Homo sapiens: one gene and its partners. The protein of the gene in region 2 purifies or fractionates together with the protein of the main gene of each other region. This does not show direct contact. Each region holds a gene or a part of one and is shown on either strand. Other genes may lie near its edges. The genes, in order: CXADR, SLC12A5, CUX1, NUP155, VEZT and KIF2A.

Region 1 (3,500 bases), on a different chromosome or scaffold from region 2:
AGTTACCCAGAAACACCTGGAATATAACCTCAGATTTCCTTTTTTTTTTTTTAATTAAATATTCTTTTTTACACATGAATTTCCAGGCTGTGAATATCTTTTTGATTCAGGGTCTGGTTCTGTCACCTAGGCTGGAGTGCAGTGACATGATCAAAGCTTCACTGCAGCCTCAAAATCCTGGTCTCAAGTCATCCTCCTACCCCAGCCTCCCAAGTAGCTACGACCACAGGCACACATCACCACACCCAGCTAATTTTTCGAAGTTTTTATTATGACAGAGTCTCGCTATGTTACCCAGGCTGGTCTCAAACCCCTGACCTCAAGTGATCCCCCCACTGTCTTGGCCTCCAAAGTGCTGAGATTACACTATGCCCAGCCCAGGTTTTCTTTTTTGTAGCCTGCTCTTTGGATGGATTTGAGGTGATGTAAATGCAGAATGCTAGTTGTTCCTTGCCACACTAAGTGTTGTTAGTATTGTTGATGATAAACTGCCTGATTGTCAGGGTTATGGCGCCTAGAGGGATGTGACTTGGTACATACTGCCAGAGGGTTACATGTCAGGCATGGGGAAGAATAGCTAAGGAATGGGAGGGGGAGCTTCCTTGACTCTCAAGTGGTCTTGCTGAAAAAAGCAAGTGCATCATTCTTGCTTTTTTTCAGGTGTGCCCCATGAAATGGACAGGCACCGAGCTATGCCTGAGATATTGCCATATCTACTAATGCAGTGGCTGCTTGTCTGAGCTTATTCTTTGCTGTTTTGTGTCAGATAAAGCTGAATAAACTGATGTTGATCACTTACTGTGGTCTTTCATTCTTTTGTGAATTCTGAACCCAGAACCAACTGATAATGAGTCAGTGGTTGTGTACAATGCTGTATTCATAAAAGTAAGTTCCATTCTCTTATGTAAATTTATAATTTGTTTTCTCTTTCAGTTAAGCCTTCAGGTGCGAGATGTTACGTTGATGGATCTGAAGAAATTGGAAGTGACTTTAAGATAAAATGTGAACCAAAAGAAGGTTCACTTCCATTACAGTATGAGTGGCAAAAATTGTCTGACTCACAGAAAATGCCCACTTCATGGTTAGCAGGTACTGCTGATAATAGTATTTGTACCACATGCCATTGATTTGGACTAAGATCTAGTAGGGGTGTGTGTGTGATTTGAGATAGGGCCTTGCTCTGTCACCCAGGCTCACTGCAATCACGGCTCACTGAAGCTTCAACCTCCTAGGCTCAAGTCATCCTCCCACCTCAGCCTCCCAGTTAGCTGGAACTACAGGTGCATGCCATCACACCCTGCTAATTTTTTTTTTAAAAAATGTGTAGAGACAGGATCTCCCTGCGTTGCCTGTGCTGGTCTCAAACTCCTGGGCTCAAGGAGTCCTCTTTCCTTGGCCTCCCAAAGTGCTGGGATTACAGGCATGAGCCCAGGCATGTGCCCAGCCTGCTTGTATATTGTAGATTCCCAGATGCTTTCTTTCCCTTTTCTACATAGAATAATCAGGATTTCCATAGGAATTATTCAGTGTTTTATAATATCAATTTAGTGTCATATATTATAAATGAAGAGCTATTCTATGATTTCATTTTTTTAGGATATTAGTTACTTTGGTACTTTTTTTTGGGTTTTTTTTTTTTTTTTTTTTTTCCGAGACAAGGGGTCTCGCTCTGTCACCCAGGCTGGGCGTGCAGTGGTAGAATCTCGGCTCCCTGCAGTCTTCACCTCCCAGGCTTAAGTGAGCCTCCCACTTCAGCCTCCCGAGTAGCTGAGACTACAGGCATGTGTCACCACACCCTGCTAATTTTTGTATTTTTTGTAGACATGGAGTTTCTGCATGTTGCCCACACTGGTCTCAAACTCCTGGGCTCAAGCTCTCCACCCACCTCAGCCTCCCAAAGTATAGGTGTGGGCCATTGCGCCTGGCGAATTTTTTTTTTTTAATTGATGAGACATGTTCATGATTACAACTTAGATGGTGGCTAAAGTATAGTAAGAGTTGGCTCTTTAGTGTTTTGCCTAGATTGAAAATATAGTAATTTACCCATGGTGTGTCTGTAAATTAAAAGAAAACCCGTGTGACACTAACTAGAAAGTTACAAATTGGCCAAATCTGCTCACCTATTTGTTATAATTGACTTCTTAGTTCAAACTGATGACCAGGCTCCACCCCGCCATCCACTGCATCCTGGTCTTTAGTAGGTTTTCTCTCTGCCTCTCTGTTTTTCAAACTAAGAGACCAATCTGGGAGTCCTCTTCTGACTTCCTTTTGTATGTTTCTTCCATCTAGGGGGGAATAAAATAGGTTTTGTATGTTTTCCTGCTGCAGGAAAGATCCTTTGTGGAATGCGGTAGCGTTTATAGTCTTATGTGCCCCAAGATGGGTTTGCAGCAGGTACACAGTGGACCAGCACCCCTGCTCCAGCTGAGGCTGTGTGCTGCAGGGGATCATGGTTACTTTCACCTTGATACATGTGAACTGGAAGCATGATTGAATTCTGGAAACATCTGTGTGGCTCAATGCCAGTTTGCTTGCATCCAGCCTTGGTCTGTCTTGCTTTTAACTGGATTGTTTAATTTGGAGAGGACTATGTTTACTAACACCTGATAACAATACATACTATAAAAATGAGTTTGTTTTCTTTTTCCTCCTTCCATAGAAATGACTTCATCTGTTATATCTGTAAAAAATGCCTCTTCTGAGTACTCTGGGACATACAGCTGTACAGTCAGAAACAGAGTGGGCTCTGATCAGTGCCTGTTGCGTCTAAACGTTGTCCCTCGTAAGTTATCTTCTTTCTGTTGGTGGTTTTGTTTCTGTTATCTTTATACCACCTCCTTTAGTTCAGTCAGCAAGTGTGTATTAAGGACAAAGGGACACTGACTTTGATCAGAACACTGTGGTTTGATTATTAGCTTTTCTAGAAAAATACATTTTATTAAAAAAACTTCATAATTGCAATGATATATTAAGAAGGTAAGAGTTGTCAAATCAACCCTTGTACCATATTTAGCTGTTATAAGTATGAGTAGCTTAGAACATTCTTATATGTTAACCAAGATAGCTTTGAATATTAAAATCTTTCAGACAGGTTTTATCATTTTAATGCTTGGAATAGATTATACAGTTCAGAAGACAGTTCTTTTTATGAATTTTTCCCCCGGATCAAAAAGACTAAATAATTTGTCTTAAAGTTAACACGTGATGAAATCAATCTAAAAATGTATAGCCTACCTTCAGTATCTATACATGTATATATGTATATATTTTTTACTATTAATTCTTCTTATTTTAGCTTCAAATAAAGCTGGACTAATTGCAGGAGCCATTATAGGAACTTTGCTTGCTCTAGCGCTCATTGGTCTTATCATCTTTTGCTGTCGTAAAAAGCGCAGAGAAGAAAAATATGAAAAGGAAGTTCATCACGATATCAGGTAATTAAGTGAGACAGGAGTTGACTGATGTATACCAAATATATGTCATTTCTCTAAAGCATTCGT
Region 2 (3,500 bases):
ACAGCATGATCTGGCCACCTCCTGACTTCCTGTCCCCTTTCCCCCTTTCTCTGCCCATGCTGTTGTTTCTGTTTCTGCCTCCCTTTGCATCTCTGTCTCCCCTGGGGCCTTCCTGTGTTCCAGGTTCTTCCTGATGTGCTACATGTTTGTGAATCTGGCCTGTGCAGTGCAGACGCTGCTGAGGACACCCAACTGGAGGCCACGCTTTCGATATTACCACTGGTGGGTGCTCTGTCCCCACACTTCCACTGAGCCACTTGCTCACCTCCACGCCAATCCTCATCTTACTCCAGTCCATCCCCTCTGGGTCTAAGGACCCCAAACCTGAAGAGGACATCCTTTTTTCTCCAGCTTTTGTTGACCAACTCACATGAGGAAGGTCCCCGAGAGGGTCTCCTAACAATCATAAATAATAACATAGCAGCATCATAAGCGGTCTCAGCTGGAATCTCTCTCCTGTCCGTGATGCCCAATAGCTCACAATGTAGCAGGGAGGCTGGAAGTCAGCTGGCCAGAGTTCAAATCATGACTCTGCACTTCCTAGCTGTGAGATCTTGGGCTGATGATGTAGCTTCTCAGAACCTCAGTTTCCTCAGCTGTGAAATGGGCATGATAGCTGCACCTGCCTGTGGGTTCTTGTGAGGACTACAGTACATGGCAGATGCTCATTGCACAGAGGCTGTAGTTCTCTCATCATTTTCCTCTATGGCTCTTCATCCTCACAATAGGCCCTCGGGGGCAGACAGAGCAGAAATGATCATGCTTGTCCTACAAAAGGAAACTGAGGCCCAAAGAGGGCAAGGGACCGGCCCAAGGTCCCCCAGCAAGACTGTGACACAACTGGGCTAGAACCAGGGCTGCCCACTCCTGTCTGGATGCTCCGGCTTTGCTGGTGGCCTTCTCCTGGGAGGACCCGTTTCCACTCCCCTGAGACCCTGGCCTCAGAATGCACCTGGCCAGGCCTGTCTGGCAGGGTCTGAGGAACAGGGACAGGGTGGTGTGGGGTGTCAGGAGTTGGGCAGGGCATTGGGTAGTGCCCTGTCTGTGGCTTCTCTTTCACCCAGAAGATCCCATATCCCCGTAGTCCTCATGGGGATGATGGTGTGAGTTCCCCTAGACCGGGCTGTCACCTCCCAGGTCTTGCCCATGCCCTGCCCCATCTCCCTCTTGCTTTCTAAGTCCCAGCTTCAGCAACAGCCCTGCTGGGGCTCAGAGGCTGGGTCTCCCCACCTTGTCTAGGACCCTCTCCTTCCTGGGCATGAGCCTCTGCCTGGCCCTCATGTTCATCTGCTCCTGGTATTATGCACTGGTAGCCATGCTCATTGCTGGACTCATCTACAAGTACATTGAGTACCGTGGGTGAGTGTGGGGAGTGGAGGTTGGGGTGGCTGGGGAAGGCTGAAGGGTGGTGGGAAGGAGAGGGAAGGGGTCATGAGGGATTGGGGTGGTGGGGGTGAGATGAAGCAGGGAGTGGGAGAGGATGGGGCTGGAGTAGAGGGAGAGGGTGATATGGGATGACATTGGAAGATGGGGGGTGGGAGCAGAGGCTTTGAGAAATGGACAGGAATGGTGAGAGAATGGATTTAGAAGTGATTTTCCAAGGAAACTTAGCCAAGGCTTGGTTGAGTCTGTTGGCAGGAGTGATACACATGTCCTTTCTGAGCCTGAGAGATGGCTCTGCCCTGGGGTAGCTGGTGCAGTGTAGATGGTTCTCCCTGCCCCCTCCTGGCTTTCTGCTCTCATGTGATCCACTTCCCGGCTCCCAGGGCAGAGAAGGAGTGGGGCGATGGGATACGAGGTCTGTCTCTCAGTGCGGCTCGCTATGCCCTCTTACGCCTGGAGGAAGGGCCCCCACACACCAAGAACTGGAGGTTAGTGGTGAGGGCACGGGTGTGCATAAGAGTGTGTGTGCATGAGTGCAAGGCTCAGGAGACAGGGGGAAGGGAGCAGGGCCTGACTTATCCTGCTTGCTTTGTTTTGCTGAGTCGTGCCCTAAAAGCCCAGCCTTGTCTGATTCCTTCCCACCTGAAACACTGAGGCTGAGCTGAGTTCCAGACATTTATGTGGGTATGTAAATGTCCACATACCCCACCATGCTAGCCTCCTGAGCAGTCATCCATTCATTCATTTCATCATTTCCATCATTTTTTCATAAAACATGAATGCCTGATGTATGGCAAGTCCCCTTCTAGTCTCTGGGGATGTAGGAAGCTCACAGTTTTGTGGAGAAGACACACATGGGGACAGACAAACATCAGATCATGTAGCATTTGCTCTGAGACAGGTGGAATCGTTCCCTTTGAGAGTTATAGGGGCTCTTAGGCATCTCTAGATTAATGACAATTCATCCATTTTATTCACGTGAAAATCAGGGATGCCGAGCGCGGTGGCTCATGCCTGTAACCCAACAGTTTGGGAGGCTGAGGCAGGTGGATCACTTGAGGCCAGGGGTTTGAGACAAGCCTGGACAACATGGCGAGACCCCATCTGTGCTAAAAATACAAAAATTAGCCAGGCATGGTGGCGTGCACCTGTAGTCCCAGCTACTCAGGATACTGAGGCAGAATAGCTTGAACCCAGGAGGCAGAGGTTATAGTGAGCCGAGATTGTACCACTGCACTCCAGCCTGGGTGACAGAGTGAGACCCTGTCTCAAAAAAAAAAAGGGGGAAATTGGAGGTCAGAGAGGATCTCACAGGTCACAGAAGGCAGACCTGGAGATGGAATCCTCACACCCCACCTCTTAGCCCTGGGTGCTGCATGCCCAACCCCTCACTCATCTCCCTGTGTTTCACCTTGCCAAGAGTAGAGCCTGAAACCCTGACTTAGGTTAGGGCATTGTTGACTTGTCTTGGCTGAGCCCAGTTGACTAAACTGGGCTCCCAGAACCTGGGGCTCTATATTATTTATCTGTGAATTCCCAAATGCTCAGCACATGGTCTAGCCCAGAGTAGGTGCTTAGAGAATGCTACGAAGTTGATAGGTGGTTGGAGGACTAAGACGGCTAAATGACTAAGGAAAGGGATGCATAAATAGATGGGTAGATGGATAAGTTTATGTACACGTGGGCGGGCAAAAGCATGAATCGATGGATGTAGGAATGGATGATAGGTAGGTAGATGTGTGGATAATTGAATGAATAATGCATGTATCAGTAAAGAAATATGCATATGAGTGGATGACTGAAGGATAAAATAGGTGGGTGGGTGGTTGAATGGGTAGATAGGTGAGTGAGGTGAATGGAGAAATGGGTTGATGGGTAGATGAATGGATGGGTGGTGAGGGGTATAGGTGGATGGGACAGATGGTTATAGAGGAGAGATGGCTAGATGACCTGGTGGTGGGTGTATGGTGTGTGGATGGTTGGTTACATGGTATATGGATTATGTGACTCTGCACACTCTTCAGGCCACAGCTGCTGGTGCTGGTGCGTGTGGACCAAGACCAGAATGTGGTGCACCCCCAGCTGCTCTCACTGACCTCCCAGCTGAAGGCGGGGAA
Region 3 (3,500 bases), on a different chromosome or scaffold from region 2:
TTAATTTTGAGCCAGAGAAACTGCTGCGAAGGCCTTTGCCCAGCCTCACCCTGGGAGTTAGTCGTCGTCTTCATTGTCGTCTTCGTTGTCTTCTTCTTTCTTCCTCTCTTCTTCTTTCTTCCTCCTCCTCTTCTTCTTTCTTCCTCTTCCTCTTCTTCTTCCTCTTGCTCCTCCTCCTCCTCCTCTTCTCCCCCAACCCCCACGTTCACTTCATCCCCTGGGAGCTGAGGCTTCCAGGCTCCAGCCTGCAACACATACCGTTCTACTCCCTCTCATCCACAGCCTGCCGGACCACAGGCTGCCCCTACCCCCACTGAAGGGCTGCCACACCAGCCCCGCTTGTCACTGCATTTCTGCTAACTCTTTCTGTTGCGTCCGCACATGACAGGCCCCACCACCATGTGCACATCTGGAAGCCCCACTCAGGTGGCTTCTTTGCCCAAATGCGCTCCTAGTTTTCCACTTCCTGGTGAACCAGCTGTGCTCTTGAGCTCTTGCCCGCGTCCCCTTCTCAGCATCGTCCCATTTCCACTTCCTCACCCCCACGCAACAGGGGATGCTGACCTCAGATCCTCATGCACTGCAGCACAAGACACCCTGTCCCTTCAGGGCCCTTCTCCAATGCTTGTTCATCATGACACTGAGACGTGGTCTCCAATCCATCAAGATCCCTCCTGCTGGGGTCCTCACAAGTTCTGTCTTAATGGACCACTTGGAGTCTTGCCTATTACCTGTAATGGCCTGTAAATTTCCTGGAGTACGGACCAGGAGTGGTTCTGATTCCCCACGGCAACAAGCGGATAGCAGGCTGCTGGTAAAGATCTGTAGAATAGATAAAGAGCCACGTGGTCTTTTATTACATAATCCTAAAGAAAATAGGAAACGAAGGACAGGATTCCATCTTAAGAAACCCCTTTCAGCTGGGCGCAGTGGCTCACATCTGTAATCCCAGCACTTTGGGAGGCCGACAGATCACCTGAGGTCAGGAAACCAGCTTGGCCAAAACCGTCTCTACTAAAAATAAATTATCCAGGTGTGGTGGCTCACACTAGGGGGACAGAGGCCGAAATTGTGGCTGCAGGAACATGGCGAAGGTCCGGTTGACTCTGCACCTGCGAGTCGTAAATCTCACGGTCCAGCCAGCCTGCTCTGGGTCTCTCTCTTCCATCCTTGGTATTTCAAAGAAACACTTGCAGCTCCTTCAAAGCCACATAGCCTCACTTCCCCTCTTCTCCCTGGTAAACTCAGCAAAAAAGGGACATCCACAGCAAAAGGAACTCAAGAAACAGTAATAATCCTGGGGACCTGGACTCACTGAGACAGCCCAGAGACCGTAGTGATCAGGGTGCGGCCCTTTTCAGTGCCATTGAGAACAAGGGAGGGAGAAGTCACCTTCTCTTGCCACATCTTTGTCATTGCACTCCTTCCCCAACCTGGGGCTGCAGAGAAGGTCTGCCCACCTGGCTTCTGAGTCATCCAAGTCTAGGAGGTTGCTCTTTGCCTATGTCCCCTGGTCCCCAGGTAGGTGCCAGTTAGGAGTGAGGTGTGGGCAGTGGCCGCCCTGGTGGGTTCCCCTCTCTCTGGCTTCTCCTTACAACTTTTTCCTTCCCTTTAAGCTTTACAAATACATTCCACTTGCAACAATGTTATGTCTGTATTAAACTTTAAAATTATACTCTGAACAGACCTGGTGTGATTCCATATGGAATGATTTACATGCTAGGCAAGAAACTTTTGCCAGCCAACTGCTAGTTGAATAGTTATTCTAGAGACATTATCAGATTCTATTACTGCCAGGGAAGTTGTTAAAGTTGACAGTTCTTCGGTTCCTGGAGAGCAGGAAATTGTAATGTTAATGCTTATTAATGTGGCTGTTGTCAAAGGTATAAGTAGAAAATAATCACTCTGGTGGCTCATGCCTGTAATACCAACACTTTGGGAGGCTGAGGCGGGTGGATCACTTGAGGTCAGGAGTTCGAGACTAGCCTGGCCAACGTGGTGAAACCCCGTCTCTACTAGAAATACAAAAATTAGCTGGGCATGATGGCACATGCCTGTAATCCCAGCTACTCGGGAGGCTGAGGTAGGAGAATCGCTTGAACCTGGGCAGAGGTTGCAGTGAGCCAATATCGCGCCACTGCACTCTAGCCTGGGTGACAGAACGAGACTCTGTCTCAAAAAATAAATAAAATAACCCCTCTGTTGTGCTCTTGCAGCATTCTGAAGTCCATGGAGTTTGCACCGTCCGAGGGCGCTGGGACACAGGTACGTGTCTCACCTCAATGGTCAGCACTAGCATCAGCCCCGCTGCTGGTTACCACTGGTCCCTCCGGCATATCCCATGATCCACTGTTTCTACGAGACCTCTCACTTACAGCCGATGAGTCATACTTCAAGAACATTTAACCAAGTTGAAGCAAATTATCTTTTTTTTTTTGTCTCCTTTTTTTCCATGTGTCCAAGGCATGAACCAGGCATAGATCAAAAGCCAAGCTGGGGATGAACAAGGGATTGCTTCATCCCTGACTGATAGGAGATGGGCACTACCAAAAAGCAAATTATCTTTAACAAAAAGAGGCAAAAAGAGAAAAGCTAGTGTTTTCCAAACTGGTAACTGAAGTGAAATTGTGATTTCACTTCAGCAGGTACTAAGAACATAAATAAAAAACAATTTCAGATTGTGTTTAAGAAGGCCAGGCTCAGTAGCTCATGCCTGTAATCCCAGCACTTTGGGAGGCCAAGACAGGAGGATCGCTTTGAGGCCAGGAATTTGAGACCAGCCTGGGCAATATAGCAAGACCATGTTGCTATTAAAAAAAAAAAAAATAGCCAAGTACTGTGACATATACCCGTGGTCCCAGCTACTTGGGAGGCTGAGGCAGGAAGATCGCTTGAGCCCAGTAGTTCAAGGCTATAGTGAGCTATGATCGCACCACTGCACTCCAGCCTGGACAACAGATTGAGACTGACTATTTTTTTTTTAATTGCATTAAAGAGCAGCCAAAAATGGATTGGTTTAGGAACTTTAGTTACATGCTGCCTCAGTAGAGAAGGTACAAGGGAAGGATGACTGTGGCCCAGGGTCATCTGGTGGCCAATTAAAATTGACATCCCAGACCAAGCATGGTGGCTCACTCCTGTAATCCCAGCACTTTGGGAGGCTGAGGTAGGTGGATCACTTGAGGTCAGGCATTTGAGACCAGCCTGGCCAATATGGTGAAACCCTATCTCTGCCAAAAATATAAAAAATTAGCTGAGCGTGGTGGCGCACGTCTGTAATCCCAGCTACTTGGGAGGCTGAGGAAGGAGAATCACTTGAACCCAGGAGCCAGAGGGTACAGTGAGCCAAGATCATGCCACTGCACTCCAGCCTGGGCGACAGAGTGAGACTCCATCTCAAAAAATTAAAAAATCAAATCAAATAAAATTGACATCCTAAGTGGAATCTGACTCCTGATGCCCAGAAGACAGCCAACATCTTTGTGGCTGGCAAAAAAAAA
Region 4 (3,500 bases), on a different chromosome or scaffold from region 2:
ATGGCGTGAACCTGGGAGGCAGAGCTTGCAGTGAGCTGAGATCGCACCACTGCACTTCAGCCTGGGTGACAGAGCAAGACTCTGTCTCAAAATAAAAAAAATAAAAAAATAAAAAAATAAAAAATTAGCTGGGCGTGGTGGCGTGCGCCTGTAATACCAGCTACCCGGGAGGCTGAGGCAGGAGAATTGCTGGAACCTGGGAGGCAGAGGATGCAGTGAGCTGAGATCGTGCCACTGCACTCCAGCCTGGCTGACAGAGCGAGACTCTCAAAAAAAAAAAAAAAAAAAAAAAAAAGTACATTTCAAAAAATAGAAAGAACATTACAGCTTCTGCAGGTCAGTGTAGTCATCAAATATTGCAACACAATGATACCACATTCCTACGTCCTTTCACTCGGCCTCTGATGCTGAAAGAAGATTTGCATCTGGAAAGTGGCTTTTCATCATTAGCTTGCTTCATTCATACACTATTGTTTGTCTTTTGAGTTGAGTAAAAGATACAAGAAACATTTTATTTCTCACCTTGTCTATACTGAGCACAAACATTGGAAAGGTCCACTTGATTGCTAATTTTTTGATATTCCTTTAATGATTCCCTTAACATTCTTTCTTTTTCAGTCTTATTTTGAACTTGTCGGGAACGCTGGAGAAGCTCATTTGCCTAGAAGAGGAGATAACAAGAACTTAAAAATATATAAAATCAAGCAGACAGATGATGCTGTCAACTAAGTTTTAGTCTATGTCTAAATTTATATATGGTTATTACCATTAAAATGAAAACAACTCTACAAACTTACTTCTTAATTTTAGGCAGAAAAGTTTTTGACCAAAGATTCCTAGCTATTCTTAATTCCTCTCCCAAATATGTTAAGCAAGAGAACTTTTGTCTGGTAATTCTCTTGCCTAGTCAATACATTATTGGGCAGCAGGCAGTCCATGTGACACTGATTTATTTATTTTTTCCACCTGTAGGAAAGGATCAATAAAAATGCCCCCATTAACTCTAATTCACTAAAAGATTTACTTGAAGTTTTAGTACTTTTCCTTAAGCTAAGGAGATAAATTATCCCCTAAATTTCCTTAATTTCTAAATTTAGTGATTTTTCTTAATTTCTCACCTTTGGTTTTTTAATATGGCCTAGAAACACTATCAAAGATTCTTTATGGGCCAGGCGCAGAGGCTCATGTCTATAATCCCAACACTTTGCAAGGCTGAGGCAGGCGGAGGTCAGGAGTTCAAAACCAGCCTAGACAACATGGTGAAATCCTGTCTCTACCAAAAATATAAAAAATTAGCCAGGTGTGATGGTGCACACCTGTAATCCCAGCTATTTGGGAGGCCGAGGCAGGAGAATCACTTGAACCTGGGAGGTGGAGGTTGCAGTGAGCTGAGATCGTACTCAGTCTTAAAAAAAAAGAGAGAATATTCTTTATGAAAAACTTAAAGGAGGGCTGGGCATGGTGGCTCACACTTATAATCCCAGCACTATGGGAGGCTGAGGCAGGAGGATCACTTGAAGCCAAGAGTTCAAGACCAGCCTGTGCAACAAATCAGAACTTGTCTCTATAAAAAACAAAAAAATTGGCTGGGTGTAGTGGTGCACACCCGTAGCCCCTAGCTACATGAGAGGCCTGCTTGAGTCTAGGACTTAGAAGCTGCTGTGAGCTATGATCACAGCACTGCACTACAGCCTAAGCAACAGAGTGAAACCCTGTGTCAAATAAATAAATAAAAATATTTTTAAAAAGAAAAGCTAAGCTTAAAAGAGTATACACTGGTTTTAAGAAGCCACATATTCCAACCCCTTTCTTAGATGAGGATTCTGAGGCTAGGAGAGGTTAAGAGATCTAACTGACTGAGGTCCTATATTAAGTGAAACAAGATGGTTCATCATACATGATACCTCTTATAACAAACAATGAAATAGGTAATAAAGTATCATACCTTAGAACAAATTGCATCATCAGTGCTATATAGAAGTGGGCAGATATCCTGTAAATGTAAACTAATGCCATCAACAGCGGCATTATCTCTGATGTAGCAGTTGATAAGAGAAGCAATTAATGCCCCTGTGAGTTCTTTGTCCCTGATTACAAGATCTTTAAAGGTGGTGATCTTCAGCTGCTCTTGAAGTTCCTAGGAGCATAAAACTTTTCTATCACAATTATAGAAATACCATATTTCTAAACATAATGAAATTATTTTAATAAATTAAAATAACCTAAATATTAATAGACTCTATAATTGAAAAGCGAAAATATACTAATTAGTAGAAACAAATTTTTGCGAACTTACATAAAATCATAGAGAGTTGGAAAAGAACCTACAGTAGATCTAGTCCAAAACTCTCACTTTCCAAATGAGAAAAGTAAAGCTTAAGTAGAGCCAAAACTAGAGTCAGATCTCCTGGCTTTGGTTATAAAATGGAAAAAACAATCACTTGGCTATATTTGAAAATCTTGGGCTTACATATTACTCCTTCCTAAACACTGTTAGAATTCCATTATTCTAGGCCTTATAATAATATTGGAGTTTAATCTGTATTGTGAACAAATCTGCTTGTCCAAATGAAGCTCTAAAGTATTGATTTATACTATAGTAAAAGATTCTGTTAGTGATGTGACTGCTATCTCTTTTTTCTAAATTCAAGGAAATACCCAAACTGTGTTAAAATTCTTGAACAAATCTTTAATTTGCATTCATTGAGCATGCCATTGGTGATGTAAGGAAGAGAGCTTTGAAGATGGATCACAAAAACATACCCAGGATAAAAACCTACCTACAATATATTTATCACTCTATAAAACTCAAAATTATTATTCTACTTGGTATGAAAAAGATAAGTTTCATAATTAAATATATTAGCTTGAATTTTTAAAAATAAAAAACAGTATGTATTTAAAAGAAACAAAACCACCAACAAAAGCCACACTATTCATTGGACACTAGTGGAAAGAATGAGGAGACTGCCTTCCAACGTTGAAAAATGGTATACGAGAGTCAAAAAGTAAGTGTTTCAGAGTAATGAAATATCCATACAGGACAAGGAAAAAGAATTTTTTTTTTTTTTTTTACAGAATTGCAGCTAGTAACTGGGGAAGGAATCACAGATTTAAAATATTATCCTTTTGGCCGGGCATGGTGGCTCATGCCTGTAATCCCAGCACTTTGGGAGGCCAAGGCAGGTAGATCACCTGACGTCAGGAGTTCAACACCAGCCTGGCCAACATGGCGAAACCCGGTCTCTTACTAAAACTACAAAAATCAGCCAGGCGTTGTGGCACATGCCTGTAGTCCCAGCTACTCGGGAAGCTGAGGCAGGAGAACTGCTTGTACCCGGGAGGTGGAGGTTACAGTGATCTCAGATTGCTCCACAGCACTCCAGCCTGGGTGACAGAATGAGACACTGTCTCAAAAAAAATAAAAAACAAACAAACAAATAAATAAATATTACCCTTTTGTAATCCTAAATGAAATAATAAATTCCAGCAATGATTAT
Region 5 (3,500 bases), on a different chromosome or scaffold from region 2:
TTTCTTTCTTTCCTATTACGTAAAATTTGCTTTGGCTTATTCCTACTCCCCTTCTAACCCATCTCAATAAATGGCACCACAAAAAACCTGGACACCATCTTTCTTGTCCCTCTTTTTGCCCACTCACATCCAGTCTGTTAGCAGATTCTTATGTCACTTCTACCTTGAAAATGTATTTTAAACCCATCCACTTTTTTCTATATCCACCCCCGCCCCCGCACCATCCTAGTCCCAGCCACCATGCTAGTCCCAGCCACCATCATTTCATACTTAGGCTGCTGCAGTACTTTCCTCAGTTATCTAAAGTTATTTGTTTCAGAATGCAACTTGACATGTAAAGAACCTTTTTAATGATTTATCCTTTGAATTTGTAATTCCCCTTCTACAAACTGCAGGAAATTATTTAAAACATAGTTAAACTTTATATACCAAGCTGCTTATTCACTTTGTGTTTATAATAGTGCACAATGGAACACTGCCTGAAAGTTCAAAAATAGAGGAATGGCTGTGTGAGTCATGCCAGAGCCACATGGTGAACCATTGTGTAGCAGCTACAGCTTGCCCGTGAAAATTCTGTAAAAACTTGGAGAAACATCTGTTGCCAGTGAAACAATCAGGATACATAAGTGTATATGCAATATGTCCACAACCCTGTTTAAAAAAAAAAATGAGGAGAAAATACCAAGATATATATAGCTACTCTTTGGGGTGGTGGGACTATAGATACTTTCACACCCTTTCGAATTTAATATCCTAACCTTGCTTTATTCTTTAAGGAAAATAAAGATTTTTTTCAAAGTACAATTTAAGAGATTCTTAATGTGGAAAATGGAGCAGACCTGTGTTTATATTTTAGCCCTGACTGACTAGCCATTTGCCTTTGAATAAGTTATTCTTTGAACTTATGTCACCTGTGAAAAGGAGTTACCATCCCTGCCTTATAAGGTATTAGATTAAATGAGAAGACATATTAAATACCTAGAACAGGGCTTGACATATAATGGGTACCCCCAAATGGTAATAGCTGTTATTCTTTAAGAAGGACTTGGAGAAAGAATTATAGTATTTCATTTCCTTTTAAATTACTTTTTGTTAACTCATCAAGATGCCTTGGAGATTTATTTCTTTATGCTGTTGATGTACTGTTTTTAAAAGCTTATTAAATCCTGAATTGTACTCTAGCTTAAGTATAGGCAGCAAAGAGAAGTTGTGGACCCTGTGGAGTCAGATTTTCCAGGTTTCACTCTAGCTCCGTTATTTGACTACTGTGTGGTCCTGAGCAAATCATTGTTTCTGTGTTTATTAAAATGGGATAATTGCAATGCTTGCCTCCAAAGGATTAGATGTTTGTCAGTTCAGTGCCTGGTGTAGAGTAAGCAATTAATGAATGTTAGCTGATTTTTAAAATTCTATCTGATATGGCCTGCTCTGAAATGTGAGACTTGTTCTCTGTTGCTGTATCCCCATCCTACCTTCCAACAATGGTGATTATAGCTAGATTCCTTTTGCTCACTCACAGTGTTTTACAAATCAAACTATAATAGTATTTTTATATTTCTTTTATTTTTACATATAACTAACCTGTAACCAAACTCAATGATTGTGTTACAGTTACCACATTTATCAGGCTCTGAAAGGAGCCTTATCTTGAGGAGCTCTATAGACTTTGCAAACTGTTGAAAACCCCTGTAATGTTCAAAGACTGTGTATTACCCCCTTCTGTAGTTACCACTGTATCGTTATTCAGATAAGAAATTTAAAAATAGATTTTGTAAGTTAAATTTTTAAAAGTGTGTTGCCCCCTCTAAAGAAAATACATTTTGGATTTATTTTTTATTGTTCCCGTATCTTCCCTCAGGAAAGTTTAGTGATAGTAAGTATTGCACCTTTAGAAAGAAAAGCAACCTCCAAATTGTAGCCTGAGGAGACATAAATAAAATACAGGTTGAATATTTCTTATCCAGGCGTGAGTCTTATCCAGGCCTGGCACCGTGGCTCACGCCTGTAATCCCAGCACTCTGGGAGGCCAAGGCGGGCGGATCAACTGAGGTTGGGAGTTTGCAACCAGCCTGACCAACATGGAGATACCCCGTCTCTACTAAAAATACAAAAAATTAGCCAGGTGTGGTGGTGCATGCCTGTAATCCCAGCTACTCGGGAGGCTGAGGCAGGAGAATCGCTTGAACCCAGGAGGCGGAAGTTGTGGTGAGCCAAGATCGTGCCATTGCACTCCAGCCTGGGCAACAAGAGCGAAACTCCGTCTCAACATAAATAAATAAATTAATTGATTAATTAATTTCTTATCCAAAATGCTTGAGACTAGAAGTGTTTTGGATTTTGGATTTTTTCAGATTTTGGAATATTTGCATTACACATTGAGGTTGAGCATCCCTAATCCAAAAATTTGAAATTTGAAATGTTCCAGTGAGCATTTCCTTTGACTGCCATGTTGGTGCTCAAAAAGTTTCAAATTTTGGAGCATTTGGGATTTCATTTCAAAGTTTTGGATTAGGGATACTCAATCAGTCCCTAGAACACAGTCCTTATCCCTCTCTTTTCCTTTAAGTTTTTAACTAGTTTTTTAAATTTATGAAGTCATCTGTTTCCTGCTCTAGAAAAAATAAATGCACACATTGTGAAATGCTTTAAATCAAAATTTTCTGTTTACCTATCAGCTATGGTTATCTCCTTATCCAGAGGAGCTTTCCTTATCCAAAGAACAAACAGGAAAAAAGAAATACATATTTCTGAGTTCTGGTTTAAGTGGGTAATGTGACAGTGATTGGATGACAAATTAGTCTTTAGAGACAAGGTCTTGCTCAGTCACACAGCTGGTGTGCAGTGGTGCAATCGTGGCTCACTGTAACCCTGAACTCCTGGGCTCAAGCGATCCTCCCACCCTAGCCTCCCAAGTAGCTGGAACAACAGTTATGTGCCACCATGCCTGACTAATTTTTAAGAAAATATTTTGTAGAGGCAGGGGTCTCACTGTGTTTCCCAGGCTGGTCTCCCAACTACTGGCCTCAAGTGAGCCTCCCAAAGTGCTGGGATTACAGGTGGGAGCCACTGCGCCTGGCCTTTAGTCTTTTCAAAAGCCGCAGTAAACTGTACCAACTTGATTCTTGCAGTTATCTTGACCCAACATGCTGGAATCATCCTTGTTAACTCTTTTTCTCTCAATACCAATCAGTCAAGAGATTGTGTTAGTTCTGCTTTCACAATGTATCCAGAGTCCATCTGCTGCTCACCTTCCACCACTAACCACCGTGGTCTCATTAATGCTTACCTGGAATATTGCAGTAACTTCCTTACTGGTTTCTCCACTTCTACTCTCATTTTCCTATAATCTCTCAACTCAGCAGACAGTATGGGCCTGTTAACGCATAAATCAGATTATGTCATGCTTCTGCTCAGAACCCTTCAGTGGCTCCCCATTGCTTACCTGGCCCCAGCCGTACTGAGCTTCTTGCTGTTCCATAGATCTACCCTGTGTGCTCCCA
Region 6 (3,500 bases), on a different chromosome or scaffold from region 2:
TTCAGCCTATACCAGAAGTTCCCAGACATACAAGAGCTTTGTGTTCTTACATAAGTGCTACTAACCTAAAGCCACATTTCAAAAGCGGTTTGCCTATAAGAAATTAGGGAAGTCATCACAGTGTGTTATTATCCTAACCTATGGTCATGTATCTTTTTATGTGCCTCAGATGCATGATGGAGTTGGTGGAAGGCAGGAGATTAGTAGAGAACTTCGAAAGAACAGAAGGATCATTTGCATTGGACAGTAGTGTTTCACAATAGAAATTGATGTCTGGGAGAATGCCCCTCAAGCTTTCCCTTTTTCACTTTAAAGAAGCTTGTTTGCTTCCTCTCACTTCCATAACGTCTATATTGGATAAAACACTAGTGGTTATTATAACAAAAATAAACTTTGCAGTTGGAGGAACACTAATATCTGAGACAGTAGAAATGACATGAGTAAAGAAGGGCTGCTTCAGACCATTATTAACTGGTGACTTGATGTTTTTCTTTTGGCTTGCTGATGGCGATCCATGTCCCTATTTCAGACCACACTTTTCCCATCAGTGATACTCTTACACTAATAAACATATCCCAAGGGCAAACAGGTACACTAAAATGAGCTTATTCCTATCTTTCAAGACCATGATGAAAACTATCCTAATGAGTCTTCACTGATTACTAAAACCAGATGGCCAGTCAGCATCTGAATTCCTAAATCATTCTGTATTATTCATGAGACAGCATATTTCCTTAAGTATTAATGTTTGGGTCTGTAACTTTTTTTTTTCCACTCCTCTCAGCTCATACCTATGGGTACATATTCTTAATACTATGTTTTTAAACTGCATGGGGTAATGGGACTTACTAATAACTAATAATTCTTTTTTTTTTTTTTTTTGAGACAGAGTCTCGCTCTGTCAGTGGTGCGATCTCCGCTCACTACAACCTCTGCCTCCCAGGTTCAAGCGATTCTTATGCCTCAGCCTCCCAAGTAGCTGGGACTACAGGTGTGTGCCACCATGCCCGGCTAATTTTTGTATTTTTAGTAGTGACAGGTTTTTGCCACGTTGGCCAGGCTGGTCTCGAACTCCTGGCCTCAAGTGATCCACCCACCTCAGCCTCCCAAAGTACTGGGATTACAGGTGTGAACCACTGTGCCCAGCCTCTAATGACTCTTAAATTCCCTGAATGCATCTGTGTCATTACCCCCATTCCCACCCCCACTACTGGGATGTCTAGCAAAATTCCTTGCACATCGTTTTTGAATAAATCATACATTATTGGATTTTTTGTTTTCAAACATTTTAATTAATCATTAGAATGACATCTTAGCTGGAAGTGAAACCTTCCATCTGTGCTCCTCTGTACTGCTACCTCCCTACTCTGGCCCTCTACTTCCCGCTGGCCTGTTAGTCAGGAACTACAGCGTTAATTGAAATTGAGTGATCTGCTAAGGTTAATCTGACTTTTCTGGTTTTCTAAGGTTATCAGTGACAGGGGTTAGGCTTGGACTGCTAAGATTATTCTCTGCCACAGGAGATAACCTGGTATGAAATTGGACTGGTGTGTTTTCTTACATGTGTCTTCCTATTTTTCTGATTCAATTCCTTTCCCTTTTTAAAACCCACTGACTCTTAAAAAAACCTACAATCTTTCTGTCGTGTAGCTAGTTTGGTTTTTTTTTTCTTTTAGCTGTGCTGTTAACAGTTCTGTAGTAGCTGTGACTACCCTTTGGGGACTGGGGAAGAAATGGGAAATGTTGAACATTTGGAAGCTGCAGCTAATATGGGATTGTTCTTTGGGGGCGGGTCTCTTAGTCACAGTACTGTGACTGTATTGATACATGTAATCTGAAGAGAATCTTAGAATATTTCCACCAGAAAGGTTTTTGGAGATAAACTAGTTTTCATTTTTATAAATGTGGAAACTTGAGTCCCAGATCACCATAAGTGACTTATCTAGATTCATACAACTTGTCAATGGCAGCCAGGAACCTGACATGCTTAGCATAGAAATCAGACTATCAAGAACTATGACAGTAAAGGAGGAATTCTCTGTTATTTTGGAACCGTATACCGCTTTTTACAGCCCAGTCAAGATGTAGGAAATTGCTTCTTACTTCGGAGAAAGGCACCAGCGAGCAGTGTTACAGAGCTTGATTAGAATGATCCCTGGTAAGAAGTGCTATGTTACTACAAGTTCACCAAACCTAAAATTGTGGGAGGAAAGTATTCTTGTTTCTTAGTTAAGTATTGGTGTAAAGAGTTCCTTTTAACATCTGAAATCAAGAGGCAATTGAAGATTTCAAAGGACCCATCAGGAATTTTGGAGTTCAGGGCAGGCAAAGAAAATCTTTAGAAAAGATTTTAAATGGCCTAATTCTTTATATGCTTTGCCACATTTTTCTTCTGCTAGTTCATCTTTACACGTCACTATATAGGCTTCTGGAGAATAGCATGTGTAAATTTAAGTAATAAAGATGAACCATGTGGCAATACAGTTGTTCTTTAGGTACAATTATGTGATTGATTATGGGGGTGGGATGGAATAGGGGCATTTGTGACCTAATAGTTCCCTTTTCCCTGAGGACTAGGACGATAATGTTTCTGTATATGGATTTGTTAGGGCTTAATAGTTTTCCAAGTGCTTCAAGACATGTTAGCTAATTGGATCTTCACAGGAACTCTATGAGGTAAGCAGGATAGAAAGGTGGCAGATTATTGGTTTATAGGTGAAGAATCTGAGGTTGGATTATTTGCCAAGATCACATGGTTAATAAGGAGCATAGCCTGGGCCAAAGCCCGAATCCCTTCACTCCCAGCTCTCTAAGTGCTGCTGACAGATGTTTGCTGATTATGGTGTGAAGTTGTATACTTTAGTATTTCTTTCTGAGACATACAAACCCCTGTAGTAAAATTCTTTCCACTACTACCAAAGAAGCTCAAAAAACTTAAAATAGGCACTTATTGCTTCCAAAAGTACCACAGAAAGCCAGGAATCTGTATTCATTGCCTAGCCACTTGATTCTTATGACAAAGATTTTGAAACTCTGGGGAAAGGCTATGTGTCAACTTGTTTTATGTGTCATGATTGTTAAAATGCTAGAGAAAACAGCAAAGAGCCAGTTAAATCTGTGTCTGCTCAAATAAGACAAGGGGCAAGAGTGTGGAAAATCCAGAACAAGATTCCCTGAGAGATCATCTAGACCCCGTTCTTTCTAGTCAGAAGTATAGTTGTGATTAATATGACATTAATCTTTTGCAAAGTTTAATTCTTGGATTCAGCCATCTGCTTTAATTTTAACACATCTGTTTTGTAACCTAAAATAATTTTAAGGTGTTTGTTTATTTGTTTGTTTGTTTTGAGATTACGATTCTTAAGAATAGATACAAGTTTTAAACCTTGGATAAAACTAATTTTTATTCTTCTGGTTCAGTTGTAGAACAAATACAGGTTAAGTTGTCTTCCAGCTCTTTTAGATAAAGCAATATTAGTGGTTTTATAGTGCTAAGTGAA

What was found.
Region 1: the proteins of SLC12A5 (region 2) and CXADR purify together in Homo sapiens (affinity purification with mass spectrometry; one large-scale study listed by BioGRID and IntAct). This does not show direct contact.
Region 3: the proteins of SLC12A5 (region 2) and CUX1 purify together in Homo sapiens (affinity purification with mass spectrometry; one large-scale study listed by BioGRID and IntAct). This does not show direct contact.
Region 4: the proteins of SLC12A5 (region 2) and NUP155 purify together in Homo sapiens (affinity purification with mass spectrometry; one large-scale study listed by BioGRID and IntAct). This does not show direct contact.
Region 5: the proteins of SLC12A5 (region 2) and VEZT purify together in Homo sapiens (affinity purification with mass spectrometry; one large-scale study listed by BioGRID and IntAct). This does not show direct contact.
Region 6: the proteins of SLC12A5 (region 2) and KIF2A purify together in Homo sapiens (affinity purification with mass spectrometry; one large-scale study listed by BioGRID and IntAct). This does not show direct contact.

What each region holds. Positions count from the first base shown.
Region 1 is NC_000021.9:17,558,043-17,561,542, forward strand, and holds part of CXADR (coxsackievirus and adenovirus receptor isoform 1 precursor), read left to right. Parts: intron 1-933; coding exon 934-1,089; intron 1,090-2,659; coding exon 2,660-2,782; intron 2,783-3,295; coding exon 3,296-3,434; intron 3,435-3,500. UniProt on the Homo sapiens protein: Component of the epithelial apical junction complex that may function as a homophilic cell adhesion molecule and is essential for tight junction integrity.
Region 2 is NC_000020.11:46,046,215-46,049,714, forward strand, and holds part of SLC12A5 (solute carrier family 12 member 5), read left to right. Parts: intron 1-123; coding exon 124-222; intron 223-1,239; coding exon 1,240-1,359; intron 1,360-1,766; coding exon 1,767-1,871; intron 1,872-3,407; coding exon 3,408-3,500. UniProt on the Homo sapiens protein: Mediates electroneutral potassium-chloride cotransport in mature neurons and is required for neuronal Cl(-) homeostasis.
Region 3 is NC_000007.14:102,191,626-102,195,125, forward strand, and holds part of CUX1 (Homeobox protein cut-like 1), read left to right. Parts: intron 1-2,216; coding exon 2,217-2,265; intron 2,266-2,450; exon of another isoform or gene 2,451-2,580; intron 2,581-3,500. UniProt on the Homo sapiens protein: May be involved in intra-Golgi retrograde transport.
Region 4 is NC_000005.10:37,308,607-37,312,106, forward strand, and holds part of NUP155 (nuclear pore complex protein Nup155), read right to left. Parts: intron 2,138-3,500; coding exon 1,946-2,137; intron 967-1,945; coding exon of another isoform or gene 916-966; exon of another isoform or gene 817-915; intron 662-816; coding exon 523-661; intron 1-522.
Region 5 is NC_000012.12:95,276,807-95,280,306, forward strand, and holds part of VEZT (vezatin), read left to right. Parts: intron 1-3,500. UniProt on the Homo sapiens protein: Plays a pivotal role in the establishment of adherens junctions and their maintenance in adult life.
Region 6 is NC_000005.10:62,309,206-62,312,705, forward strand, and holds part of KIF2A (kinesin-like protein KIF2A), read left to right. Parts: intron 1-3,500. UniProt on the Homo sapiens protein: Plus end-directed microtubule-dependent motor required for normal brain development. May regulate microtubule dynamics during axonal growth. Required for normal progression through mitosis. Required for normal congress of chromosomes at the metaphase plate.